4 linked regions of the Homo sapiens genome follow. The protein of the gene in region 4 purifies or fractionates together with the protein of the main gene of each other region. This does not show direct contact. Each region holds a gene or a part of one and is shown on either strand. Other genes may lie near its edges.

What was found.
Region 1: the proteins of SHTN1 (region 4) and RNF41 purify together in Homo sapiens (affinity purification with mass spectrometry; 2 studies listed by BioGRID and IntAct, with this or other methods). This does not show direct contact.
Region 2: the proteins of SHTN1 (region 4) and GTF2I fractionate together in Homo sapiens (co-fractionation; one large-scale study listed by BioGRID). This does not show direct contact.
Region 3: the proteins of SHTN1 (region 4) and TSNAX fractionate together in Homo sapiens (co-fractionation; one large-scale study listed by BioGRID). This does not show direct contact.

Annotation. Positions count from the first base shown.
Region 1 is NC_000012.12:56,208,423-56,211,922, forward strand, and holds part of RNF41 (E3 ubiquitin-protein ligase NRDP1), read right to left. Parts: intron 2,147-3,500; coding exon 1,875-2,146; intron 1-1,874. UniProt on the Homo sapiens protein: Acts as E3 ubiquitin-protein ligase and regulates the degradation of target proteins. Polyubiquitinates MYD88. Negatively regulates MYD88-dependent production of pro-inflammatory cytokines.
Region 2 is NC_000007.14:74,755,218-74,758,717, reverse strand, and holds part of GTF2I (general transcription factor II-I), read right to left. Parts: intron 3,210-3,500; coding exon 3,181-3,209; intron 1,899-3,180; coding exon 1,857-1,898; intron 760-1,856; coding exon 718-759; intron 1-717. UniProt on the Homo sapiens protein: Interacts with the basal transcription machinery by coordinating the formation of a multiprotein complex at the C-FOS promoter, and linking specific signal responsive activator complexes.
Region 3 is NC_000001.11:231,538,669-231,542,168, forward strand, and holds part of TSNAX (translin-associated protein X), read left to right. Parts: intron 1-3,500.
Region 4 is NC_000010.11:116,995,188-116,998,687, forward strand, and holds part of SHTN1 (shootin-1), read right to left. Parts: intron 1-3,500. UniProt on the Homo sapiens protein: Involved in the generation of internal asymmetric signals required for neuronal polarization and neurite outgrowth.

The DNA.
Region 1 (3,500 bases), on a different chromosome or scaffold from region 4:
TTCAGGCCTCCCTCTTGTTTATTCCCTTCACTTTCTTCGTCCAAGCTTCCTACTTGCCCCTTTGCTGTCTATTTTCCTTAAATTTCTTTCCCCAATCAAGACACAGTGTTTTATCTATTTTTTAAATTTATTTTATTTTGTATTTTTATTATTTTTTTTGACACGGAGTTTCGCTCTTGTTGCCCAAACTGGAGTGCGATGGCATGATCTCAGCTCAGCGCAACCTCTGCCTCCCAGGTTCAAGCGATTCTCCTGCCTCAGCCTCCCGAGTAGCTGGGATTACAGGTGCGCGCCACCATGGCCGGCTAACTTTTTGTATTTTTAGTAGAAATGGGGTTTCTCCATGTTAGCCAGGCTGGTCTCAAACTCCTGGCCTCACGTGATCTGCCCCCCTCGGCCTTCCAAAGTGTTGGGATTACAGGCGTGAGCCACCGCGCCTGGCCTTTTTTTTTTTTTTTCGAGACCAAGTTTCACTCTTGTCACCCAGGCTGGAGTGCAATGGCACGGTCTCAGCTCACTGCAACCTCCGCCTCATGGGTTCAAGTAATTCTTGTGCCTCAGCCTCCCGAGTAGCTGGGATTACAGGTGCCCACCACCACACCTGGCTAATTTTTATATTTTTAGTAGAGATGGGGTTTCACCATGTTGGCCACGCTGGTCTTGAACTCCTGACCTCAGGTGATCCGCCCGCCTCGTCCTCCCAAAGTGCTGGGATTACAGGCGTGAGCCACCGCACGGGGCCTATTTATTTATTTTGACACACTGTTTTTATCTACTGCACAGCTCTCCTTTTCCTCCTACAGATTCTGCCTGTGCACTTATTCCTTCAGAGAAGCCCTATATTCACAGCCCCAGCTATCAACATTCTTTTTATTTTTTAGTTAGGGGGAACAGAGTCTCATTCTGTCACCCAGGCTGGAGTGCAATGGCGCGATCTCAGCTCACTACAACCTCTACCTCTGGTTTTAAGTGATTCTCATGCCTCAGCCTCCTGAGTAGCTGGGATTACAGGCGAGCACCACCACACTTGGCTAATTTTTTTTTTTTTTTTTTGAGACGGAGTCTCGCTCTGTTGCCCAGGCTGGAGTGCAGTGGCTCAATCTCTGCTCACTGCAAGCTCCCCGTCCCAGGTTCATGCCGTTCTCCTGCCTCAGCCTCCCAAGTAGCTGGGACTACAGGTGCCTGCCACCACGCCTGGCTAGTTTTTTGTATTTTTAGTAGAGACGGGGTTTCAATGTGTTAGCCAGGATGGTCTCAATCTCCTGACCTCGTGATCCACCCGCCTTGGCCTCCCAAAGTGCTGGGATTACAGGCGTGAGCCACCGCGCCCGGCCCCACACCTGGCTAATTTTTGTATTTTTAGTAGAGACAAGGTTTTGCCATGTTGGCCAGGTTGGTCTTGAACTCCTGGCCTGAAGTGACTTGCCCACTTCGGCCTCCCAAAGTGCTAGGATTACAGGTGTGAGCTAACATGCCCTTCAGCTATCAACATTTAGTCGAATATTTCATAACCCACAGAAATAAAAAAATAGGGCAAGAGGAAATATGAGAAGGCTGGCAATTATAGCAGTCAACCTGACAAACGGAAAGTAGTATTGGACTGAAAGGGAAGAATAGAGTCAATCAAGCTTTAATGTTATTACACAAATTTACTAAATTGCTGTGCCCCTTCTTTTGTTAAAGCAAGAGCAAAATGATTATAGTTGGAAAAGCAGCAAGAAAGTAAGATCTTAGAGCAGGAAGCCAAGGAGGCTAAGAATACTCCTTGCCAACATGCCAAAGAGACCTCCTCAGCTAGTGAGGAGGGCAGCCAGAGACAGGGGCATAAATGAGATGGCCCTTATCCATGTGGGGCAGAAGGGAACAAATCTCACCCACAGCCCTGTTCACAGGTCACAGGCCGCTTCGGGTTGTGCTCACAGTCGCTGAGGTGAGACATGAGGTTGTCAAGCCGGACAACGGCACTACAGCCGAACACAGCGTTGTCACAGGCAATCTGCAGCTTTGACAACATGTTCCGCATGATCCGAGGTACTGGGCGCAGATGGGCGACCGTCACAACACTACGGTCCACTGGACATGTCTGTTGCTGAGAGAACCACTGGGTGATGCAGGCGTTGCAGAAAGCATGTTCACAATGAGGTGCCTAGAAGAGAGAACAAGGCAAAAGGGGCGCAAGGGAATTAGCAGGACCTAAGAGCCTGGATATGATATAACTCTACAAAGCCAATCAAGCCTTTGAGCAGCCTCTACGACAAGAGGTCCACTGGGTCACAGCAAAGTATAGATCTACTACGGGCAAGGCATTGTAGGGGACAGGCTTAAGATACGTTTCCTGCTGGGCACGGTGGCTCATGCCTGTAATCCCAGCACTTTGGGAGGCTAAGGCAGGCACACTGCTTGACCTCAGGAGTTTGAGACCATCCCAGACAACATGACAAAACCCCATCTCTACAAAAATTACAAAAATTAGCCGGGCATAGGCCGGGCGCAGTGGCTCACGCCTGTAATCTCAGCACTTTGGGAGGCCGAGGCAGGCGGATCATGAGGTCAGGAGTTCAAGACCAGCCTGACCGACATGGTGAAACCCTGTCTCTACTAAAAATAAAAAAATTAGCCAGGGGTGGTGGCGCATGCCTGTAATCACAGCTACTCAGGAGGCTAAGGCAGGAGAATAGCTTGAACCCAGGAGGTGGAGGTTGCAGTGAGCCAAGATCACACCACTGCACTCTAGCCTGGGCAATACATCTCGAAAAAAAAAAGCTGGGCCTGGTGGCACGTGCCTATAGTCCCAGCTAGCCAGGAGGCTGAGGTGGGAGGATGGAGGATGGCTTGAGCCCATAAGGCGGAGGTTGCAGTGAACCAAGACTGCACCACTGCACTCCAGCCTGGGTGACAGAGCCAGAACCTGTTTCAAAATAAATAAATAAATATATATATATATATTCCCTGTGCTCAAGATTAAAAATGAGTTGTGAAACAAGACAAACAAGTAAAAAGTTATATAACAATAAGAGATACAAATGATATTCTAGGACAATAGGACAGATGACACAAGGCAGCCAATTATTAATTGCCATCTGGATTGCATACACAATAATTGCCAAAAATGTCCAGAGGAGGGTGAGGTCTTTTCAGGCTAGCTCAATCACGGCAGGTATTTATGAAGAGGACAGAATTTGATATGGGTCTTGAAGGATAATTCAGATGATAGATTTAGAGAGGAGGAGGACATATTTACTGGCAAAAATTCAATGTAAGAAAGCTAGGCCAGGCATGGTGGATGGCGCCTGTAATCCCAGCACTTTGGGAGGCTGAGGTGGGCGGATAATGAGGTCAGGAGATTGAGACCATCCTGGCTAACATAGCGAAACCCTGTCTCTACTAAAAATACAAAAAATTAGCCGGGCGTGGTGGCGGGTGCCTGTAGTCTCAGCTATTTAGGAGGCTGAGGCAGAAGAATGGCGTGAACCTGGGAGGCAGAGCTTGCAGTGAGCCAA
Region 2 (3,500 bases), on a different chromosome or scaffold from region 4:
ATTCGTACCAAACTATTTACTAAGATATGGTTTAATAAGAAGGACAAGACACCAAACATCAAAAGAGCTTCAGAGAGACATCTCTTTAGCAATACATTCAAAATTTTGTTACTTATGTTTTCAAAGTAACATACATCTTCTGGCTTACATGCATTTAAAGGACACACGTTAGGTTATCTAGGTTATGTAGCAGAGTCATTCACGGAGAATTTACCAAGTCATCTGGGGGAAATGGAGCAAAAGCAGCTATGCGTCATCACTCAACAGCATAACCTGCAAATCCAATTCACCCAGAAGAAAGAGAGCAAAACCACCACCCAGTTCTAGTGAAATAGTTTAAATGCACAATCCTTTGTCCTGATAAAAAAGTCTTGGCTGGGCAAGGTGGCTCGCGCCTGTAATCCGAGCACTTTGGAGGCCAAGGCTGGCGGATCACTTGAGGTCAGAAGTCTGAGACTAGCCTGGCCAACATGGTGAAACCCCGTTTCTACTAAAAATACAAAAATTAGCCAAGCATGGTGGTGCAGGCCTGTAATCCCAGCTACTCGGGAGGCTGAGGCAGGAGAACTGCTTGAGCCCGGGAGGCGGAGGTTGCAGAGATCGCGCAACCTCACTCCACCCTGGGTGACAGAGCAAGTCTCTGTCTTTAAAAAAAAAAAAAAGAAGAAGAAGAAAGAAGAAGTCTTAAGGACTTGCAGGACCACCCCACCCTTTTACCTTCTGTGGCTGGAACTTCCAACTGGCTTGGTTCAGCTGATTCTAAAGAGAAACACAGAGACTGATTTCCACATTGTTCAACAGCTGCTTTATACTATGTAAAGAACCCAGGAGGAGGAAGAGGAGAAAAGCCCTCTAGACTCTGTACAAACACAGGTGCATGATGAAACAATGCTCACGGTCTTGAGATGGAGCACACGATTATCCAAGTGTACTTTCAAATTTCTGTTTTTCAAATGTGGTCCTAAGTTCACATATGCAACTGAAGTTTGAAAGAGCAGAGTCTTAACATAGCTCTACCATGAAAACAAGCTCCTTAGTTATGCTTTCTCCCTTATCCTTCTGTTTACTCCCTTTAATAAAAGCTTTTCATTACTTTTTTTGTTTTTCTTCGTATGTTTGTTTTTTTGAGACAGAATCTCCTTTCTGTTGCCCAGGCTGGAGTGCAGTGGCACGATCTTGGCTCACTGCGACCTCCGCCTCCCAGGCTCAAGCGGTTCTCCTGCCTCAGCCTCCTGAGTAGCCGGCACACGCCACCACGTCTGGCTAGTTTTTGTATTCTTAGTAGAGACGGGGTTGCACCATGTTGGCCAGGCTGGTCTCGAACTCCTGATCTCAAGTGATCTACCCTTCTCAGCCTTCCAAAGTGCTGGGATAACAGGCGTGAGCCACCGCGCCCAGTCTCATTACTTTCAATGACTCACACAGCACCAGGCCATTCCACTTGTTTTTTAAGGAATTTTTTAAGAGCACAATGTGTACATTTCTACTGAAGAACATTTTGCTCACTGACTTATGGCAGACATTAGAAATGGATGGCAGAGTCAGGTTAAAGTGACGGCCCTCTTGCTCTGCCATTTCATCCTACCCATTAATCCTGGGGTTCCTGATGTTAGGCCTGAGCTGGGATAGGGGGTGCAAATGGTCTGCAGCCCCCAGTTCTCAATCAGGACCCACAGCTTGAATTTATGTTTTGATCAGCTGTCAAACCCAGGAGTGAAAACCACAGAGAAGCATGTGTGTGCTGTGTAACTGAGTCCCCTCAGGGCAGGTGACTGAGAGCCAAAGCCACACGCAGGCACGCCATTGTGCCACTGTGCAGGCAGGAGTAGCTCCGGGCCCTCCCCTGCCTCGCTCACCTTGTATCACGGGGCCTTCTGACTCACTCTGATCAACCAGCTCTGAAAATGAAGCAGATTGGTTTAAATAATGTAAGGATGTGTTGTTCCCTTGGAAAAGCATTTTAACATACATTTGCTGTTTCCCTCAAGATGAGAAGGAAACAAACCTCAGAGTTCTGATATGTCCCTCAGAATCACTAATTCACAGTAATTACCATAAAACTCTATACCACACTACCGCACAAGAACAGGAACAAAAGAGAACATTTTATTTATTTATTTATTGGGACAGAGTTTTGCTCTTGTTGCCCAGGCTGGAGTGCAATGGCACGATCTCAGCTCACTGCAACCTCCACCTCTAGGATTCAAGCAACTCTCCTGCCTCAGCCTCCTGAGTAGCTGGGATTACAGGCACGTGCCACCACACCCAGCTGATTTTTGTATTTTTAGTAGAGACAGGCTTTCACCATGTTGGACGGGCTGGTCTCCAACTCCCAACCTCAACTGATCCGCCTGCCTCAGCCTCCCAAACTGCTGGGATTACAGGCGTGAGCCACCACGCCTGGCCTCACTTTTATACATTTTTAATAATAAAGTTAAGAAAACAAAACACACTCGCAAAATTAAGTTTGGCTCAAAATACTATTGAAAATGACATCAACGTTAAGGAATTGAAAGGACATTTGTTCACTCGCTCAGCAATATTTGAGAGCCCCATGTGTGCCAGGCACTGTGCTGAAATACTAACAGAAGCAGGCACATTGTGACTTACTTTGTAACGAAATCCAAGCACAGTAATTATAACAGTCATAAAAGCAGTAATAAATATAGATTGTATTCGCTGAGCACATACTGTAGGCTAAACACATACTAGAGGCTAGACACTGTTCTAGGTTAGGGGGATGCAAACTCTTTTCTTGCAGAGCCAATTAGTAAATATTTTAGGTTTTGCAGGCACACACTTGCTGCTGCCATCTCTCAGTTCTGCCATAAACAAATGGACACGATGGTGGTTTCAATAAAACTTTATGCATACACGTCGGCAGGAGCTTGCTGACACCTGTTCCAGATGCTTTCCATCTACTGGAACGACTCCCCCAAAATCGGTGCTATTATTACCATTTTATGATTAAGTGCATCGAGGATAGGAAGTTAAGAAGCTTGAATAATTTTACAACTAGGAAGTGCCTGGTGTTTTTACTGAGGGCTAAAACAAGTATTTGGCCTGGTTACTGACATAGGTGAAGTAACGTGATATACGTTAAGCATGTATACACACTCACACGCACACACGTCAGACCCCAGGAAAAAACAAAAACAAAACACTTCACAAAATACTCACGGTTATTAATCACAAGTCCTGGAAATGGTCTAAAGAGAGAAACAAATTGTAAAGTATAACAATTTATTTTCACTCTGTAAGAATTTACAGGTATAACTGTTTATTCAACTCATATCTAGCCCACGTCATTTACGTACTACAATGAGAAGTATTATCCGTGACCTTATAAGCTTATGGAAGAGATAGATACGTATCAATAATAAGAACACTGTTAGAAAGTGTTAAGCTACTAGTAAATGGAGGAAAAACAAAAAATAGAAACGCAGAGCAGGGAACAGAGTGATTCTAAGTTTAACATACGGAAGAACGGAAGGGGCTTT
Region 3 (3,500 bases), on a different chromosome or scaffold from region 4:
ATCACATATAATTTATTAGCTTTTCGTTATTGAAGATATTATTGCCCGGGCATGGTGGCTCACACCTGTATGGGCAACATGGCAAAACCCCATCTCTACAAAAAATACAAAAAACTAGCTGGAGATGGTGGTATGCAAGTGTAGTCCCAGCTGCTCAGGAGACTGAGGCAGGAGGATTGATTGAGCCCAGGTGGTCAAGGCTGCAGTGAGCCATGATTGTGCCACTGTACCCCAGCCTGGGCGACAGAATGAGACCCTGTCTCAAAAAAAAAAAAAAAAAAGATACTGAAGTATTCCGTTCAGTAACATGAAACTTTTAAGATAATTCTCACATTTTAATTTTTACTTCATTAAATGGAATCTAATTTGCCATACATAGATTTATTGAAATATGGCACTGTTAACATTTTCTTTTTCTTACCTGACTGTGTAAAATTAGTTTTTGCTTGTTTTCTCATATCATTCTTAGATAGCTTGTACATAATAAGGCTTGTATTATCGAAAGAAGCAATACTGTTCTTATTAATTATGGACACTTTTTTTTAGTACTTATTACAATTCTAAAACAATTGCCATCAGTATTCAGCAGTAATATAAATAACAAAAGCAATAATATAAAGAAAAACATACAGATTGAGTATCCTAAATGCTTGGGACTGGAAGTGTTTTGGATTTCGGATTTTGGAATACTTGCAGATAATGTATGGGTTGAGCATCCCTTATCTGGAAATCTGAAATCTGAAGTGCTCTTGTGAGCATTTCCTTAGAGTGTCTTGTTGCTAAGAAAGTTTTGGATTTTGGAGCATTTTGGATTTCGGATTTTCAGATTAGGGATGCTCAACCTGTAATAGGAATATGACAGGAGACCTTAATATTTTAGAAAAATCTGCGTTACTGTGTGAAGTCATCTTTTAAATATTTTTCCACCAAAAAATAAATGCTCATTATAGTAAACTTAGAAAATGGTAGTCTTTAGAAAAATTACGAATGGCAGAAAGGTAAAGCTACTTAATGAGACAAATCAGTCTGTAGTACCCAAAGATAGCCTCTATCAACTAGCAGATTTCTTATTTTGTGCACTGTTTTTTATCATAGTTGTGATCATACTGTTCATACAGTTTTGACTAGTAAACTGAGAAAATAATAGACTTCAGAAAAATAAGAAACTTAAGAAAAAAATAGAAACTTTAGAAATATTAGAAACTTCAGGAAAGTAAAGATACTTCATGAAAGAGGCTGGATGTGGAGGCTCATGCCTGTAATCCCAGCACTTTGGGAGGCCAAGGCAGGCAGATCACTTGAGGTCAGGAGTTTGAGACCAGCCTGGCCAACATGGCGAAACCCTGTCTCTACTGAAAATATAAAAATTAGCCGGGCTTGGTGGCATCCCAGCTACTCGGGAGGCTGAGGCAGGAGAATTGCTTGAACTCAGGAAGCGGAGGTTGCTTGAACTCAGAATTGTGCCACTGCAATCCAGCCTGGGTGACAGAATAGGACTCTGTCTCAAAAAAAAAAAAAAAAAAAAAAAAACTTTATGAAAGAAATGAGCCAGTCACAGTACAGCTGAAAAACTGTTGTGAGAGGACCTCATGTATTTTAACTACAAAATTATTTTAATAGACATAGATAACTCTTCTTCAGTGAGCTTCAGTAGTTTGTGTCTTTCAAGGAATTTGCCATTTCCTCTAAGTTTTGAAATTTATTGGTGCTAATTTTCATTTTGATTTCACCTTTGACCCAAGAATAATTTAAGTATGTTATTTTGTGTCCAAATATTTTGGGAGTTTTCCAGACGACTTTCTGATACTGATTTCTAATTTAATTTCATGTGGTCAGAGAACATACTTTCTATAATTTGAATCCTTTTAAATTTATGGAGCCTTAATTTTGGCCCAGGATATGGTCTATCTGGTAAATGTTGTGTGTGCACTTGAAGAGTGTGTATTCTGTTATTGTTAGGTGTAATTAAGTCAGATTGGCTGATAGTGGTGTTCGCGTCACTTATTTCCTTATGATTTTCTGTACACTCGCTCTATCAGTTATTAAGAGAGAAAGAGGGTGACCTCTCTTGACGATAATTGTAGATTTGACTTTCTCCTTGAAGTCCTATCAGTTTTTTCTTCAAGTATCTTGAAGCTCTTTTATTTGGTACATTAATATTTAGGATTGTTATGCATTTAATGAATTGACCCTTTATCATTATGATGGTATCCCTGGATATAGGCTTTGCCCAAAGTTTGATGTTAATATAGCTACTCCTGTTTCGTTTGATTGTTATTAGAACGTATATCTTTTCATCCTTTTATTTTTAATCTATTTGTGTTTATATTTAACATGGATTTCTTGTCTCTCTTGCTTTTTAAAAATCCATTCTGAAAATCTCTGCTTGTTAGTGCAGGTGTTTAGACCGTTTACATTTAATGCAGTTATTGCTATGGTTATAATTAAATCTACCATCTATTCTTCTCTCCTTCCTGCCTTATTTTGGATAATTTTTTATGATCCCATTTTATCTTATTTGTAGGCTTATTAGCTATGCCTTTTTTGTTTTGTTTTTGTAGTGATTGTTTTATGGTTCATAATATATATCTTATTGTCAACTATTCTCACTTTGTACAATACTGTGTTTACTAAAATTTGTGCATACAAGAATCTTTTCACTTTGCATGATTTTTTGGTAACAGTTACTTTGCCAGTGAAGGTCACAGTTTTGATGTGCCCAAGTTTCAGTTAACACAGTACCATGCAAAGTAAGGACTACTTATCATTTCGCGTATGGTATAAAAATCTTATACTTCCTTTTCCATTTCCCCTCTACTAGCTTGGCCTTTTGTGCTACTGTTGTGATTCATGTTATTTCTACTTTTGTTGTTTCCACAATATGTTATGATTTTTACTTTAAACAGTATGATTTAAAAATAAGAAAAATATTTATCCACATTTACCAATTTTTGTAAATGTTCATTCCTTTGTGTATAGATTCAGATTTTTATCTGGTATCATTTTCCTTTTGCCTAAAGAACTTCTTTTAATATTTTTTGTAGTGTCAATCTGCTGATGATAAATCAATTCTTTCCGGCTCTGTGAACTAAGGGGATTGTTCTGCCTGCTCACTTTGGGCAATTCTTTTTCCAGCCTTAGGTAGTTTCCTCACATGCCTGCACTGATCAGTACTCAACTGAAGACTTGAGGAGGTTGCTTCTATAAATCTCTGAAGCTCTCTGTTTATACAGCTTTCTCCTCATTGTTACTCTGCTCTGCAAATTTTAGCTGTCTCGATCCCCCAAAACTCCCAACTCCTTTTCTACTCAGGCTGACTCCCAGGCTCCACCTAAGTTTCCTGTCTCTGTACTGTCACTTGGAAGCTTTCCAGGCAATAAGATGGGGCAGTCAGAGGGTATATGTTGTTCTCCTCCCTTTCCCCAGGGATCACTGCTCCATGCTGCCTGTAGTCCAGTGTCTGTAACCATTGTTTTCTGTATTTATTTTTTCTTTTTAGT
Region 4 (3,500 bases):
TTTTGCAAGCAATTATAATCCTAAAGTTTTGGGTCTTCAAGGAGGTATATGGGAAGAACAAAAAGAACTCTGACCTGTACAGGTCTCTGATAACTTTAAGGAAATACCAGTGGACTAGGTATGAACTCCAGAAATCTAAAGGAGAAACTGAACTCCTAAAATTGCTAACATCGAGCAAAATTAAGAATTAATTACATGGGACTAACATGATGAGGGACTGTGATTTTTAGGACTTTATTAGAAACACTACTGATTCTTTTATTTTCCAGATTTAGGAAAACATTTTCTTCTTTTGCGCTATCTATGGCTTAAGACAATTTGGTAAAGTATACTTTTGCAAATAGAATTGAAACATTTACTTTTCTTCCTTACTTGATCCCTCCAAAATTTGGAAACTATTCATGAGTATTCTTATTTTTAGGATAATATAGGCATTTGCATAAGTTCAGGAAGAATCCGTTCTTCTTTTAATAGGATACAATTGAAAATACTGGTTATATTGCCAAAGTTTGATGAGAATGTCGTATTTTCTGATATGACCAGTTTTTGGGAACTGAGGTCCCTAGAGGAACCTCAGTTTAATGGGGCCAATAAAGGCACCTTGGAAATACTGGCCTCGTACCTTGAATACATGGTTCAAATGGTTGCCTTATAGGGTAAAGAATGTCACCTTCCTGACAGGCCCAGGAACATCAGGAATCTAGGGAAGAGAGCTATCTATCTAAGACTACTATAGGCACAATCTGATGTTGAGTCCTAAGCTTGGCTTCTTAGCCTAAGGAGGCATTTTTGTAAGCCTAATCCGAGATTCCTTATGAAGAGTTCCAGCAAAGCAGATTTTAAAAGGGCTTACATAGTCAATCACTATTTTTGCTGCATTTATGTAAATAATTAGGCCAAGTATAATAGACAAAAACTTATTTTACAAATAAACTGGTCTTACTGATTCTTTTTGGTAGAAATTAGTGTGAGAGAGGAAAAATATTTTCAGAAAAATAATAGTTCAGAAACTATAGTTCACCCATTACTAGATTCTAGCCCTGTTCATTGTTTTTGAGATTTTATTAACTACCTGCAATCTGGAATGGATCCTAAATTCTTTTAGTTTTTTCTGATACCTGGCTGTGAGTCTCCAAACTAACATTTCCAATTTTTCTCCCACCCTTTGACCTGGAATCACTGAAATTAAAATTGGGCTTTTTCTGAAGCTATGCAAGCTAAAGCTGGACAACTTGATACAAACATAAGAGAAATCACCACAACAGCTTTTGTATCGACAACCTTTATGATATTTAAACTACAAACAAGGAAAATCTGTCAGATTGCAATTGCCTGCCCCACTCCAGCTGAAGACACTTTGAGCCTAAGATTTATAAATCCTCTCAACTGGCTGCTCTCCAGACTCAGAAACTAATTTATAGACTGCTCTAAACATTAACCTTGCTTTTCCTTTTTTTTCATAGAAATGTCTCTTATTAAGTATTTGTATGCTTATACATATAGAAACCTAACATTAAAGAGATCACCCATAACACCACCTCTTGAAATAAAACATGACTGTTTACCTAAACTAACCTAGTCTCAGGACTAAGAGACTGACTCAATAAGATATGAGACAATATACTTAAATCTGTTCTTTTCTGCTGGTTCCAATCTGGTTTTCTTCCCCTTTGCCAATCACTTATCTACAACCATACCTCTCCAAAGCTACCAGCCTAGCACATAATATGTGAGACTTTCTGAAAGTAAAGTTTCAAAGGGGAGAACTGAAGGAAACCAGCCTATCTCCCCAAAATATGAAAGACCTTCGAGCTAAAGATAATTAGGATGAAGGAAACTATCTGCCTTCCCTCTGTCTGCCTAAAAGCAGGACACAGAATTACAAAGACAAGAGGTCTATCTTCTCCCCATTTCCCACCTAAAAACAAGATACCCATTCTCCTTTACAACCCATATCACCTCAGAGATGGTGGCAGAGAAATCTGCGAGTAGACTTTACCCCAGGAGTTTCCCCATAAACTCACCTTCCCACATTCTCCTGCCTTTGGAAGCCTGGAACTGCTTTCCTTTGTCCTAACACTTTTCTAAATGTATAGTTCTTTGTTGAAGACAGTATGTTGAGCCACTGCTTATTTTTCTCCCTTGCGATGTGCACTGCATGCATTAATAAACTTGCTTGTTCATGTCTTTTGTTACAGGTATCTGTCCCAATTATGAACTTACAAGGTTTGAGGGACAGATTATTTTTTCTACCCTTCAATCCTTAAGGCATCTCTTGACTATGACAGTTTCTCAGACTTTACTCATTTTTATGACCTTGACAGTTGGGAGAAGTGCTGATCAGGTATTCTGCAGAACGTCTCTCAATAGGGATTTGCTGATATTTTCCTCATGAGTCGACTGGCTTTATGGGTTTTTAGGGGAAGACCACAGAGGTAAAACGCCAATTCATCACATCACACTATCATGCTATCATCATTGTTGATGTTGGCCTTGATCATCTAGCTGACATAGTGTTTGTCAGGTTTCTCCACTGTAAAGTTACTGGTTCCCCCTTTTCCATATTGTAGTCTTTGGCAGGAATTCACTATGTGCTGCCCACACTTAAGAATCAGGGAGTTAGGGCCAGGCGCGATGGCTCACGCCTGTAAACCCAGCACTTTGGGAGGCTGAGGCGGGTGGATCACGAGGTCAGGAGACCGAAACCATCCTGGCTAACACGGTGAAACACTGTCTCTACTAAAAATACATAAAATTAGTCAGGCATGGTGGCGGGCGCCTGTAGTCCCAGCTACTCGGGAGGCAGAGGCAGGAGAATGGTGTGAACCTGGGAGGCGGAGCTTGCAGTGAGCAGAGCTCATGCCTCGGCACTTCAGCCTGGGGGACAGAGCGAGACTCTGTCTCAAAAAAAAAGAATCAGGGAGTTAAGATACACCGCTTTGAGGGGGAACATCTACATAAATTATTTGGAATTGCTCTGCATGGGAGATTTGTCTTTAATCATTTATTTATATCAGTATCAACTCATGAATATTACTTCAAATTTTGAATTATAATCCAATATTCTGTTGTTCAGAGTTCCGTCTTTGGACATTGGATGTTCTTTCCATCGGCTCTTGTGTCTCTGACAGACAGTAGTTTCCCTCTTATCTACCGTTTCACTCTTCAGGGTTTCAGTTACCCATGGTCAACATGGTATGAAAATAGATGACTACAGTACCACAAGATATTTTGAGAGAGAGAGAGAGAGACCACATTCACATAACTCTTATTACAGTATATTGTTATAATTGTTCTATTTTATTATGAGTTTTTATTATCTCTTATTGTGCCTAACTTATAAATTAAACTTTATCACAGATACGTATGCACAGGAAAAAACTTGGAATATATAGGGTTTGTTATTATCCATGATTTCAGGCACCTACTGCAGGTGTTGAAACATAGCTTCCTCCATGGGTAAGCAGGGACTACAGTATCTCCATCAATGTCAGCTTATC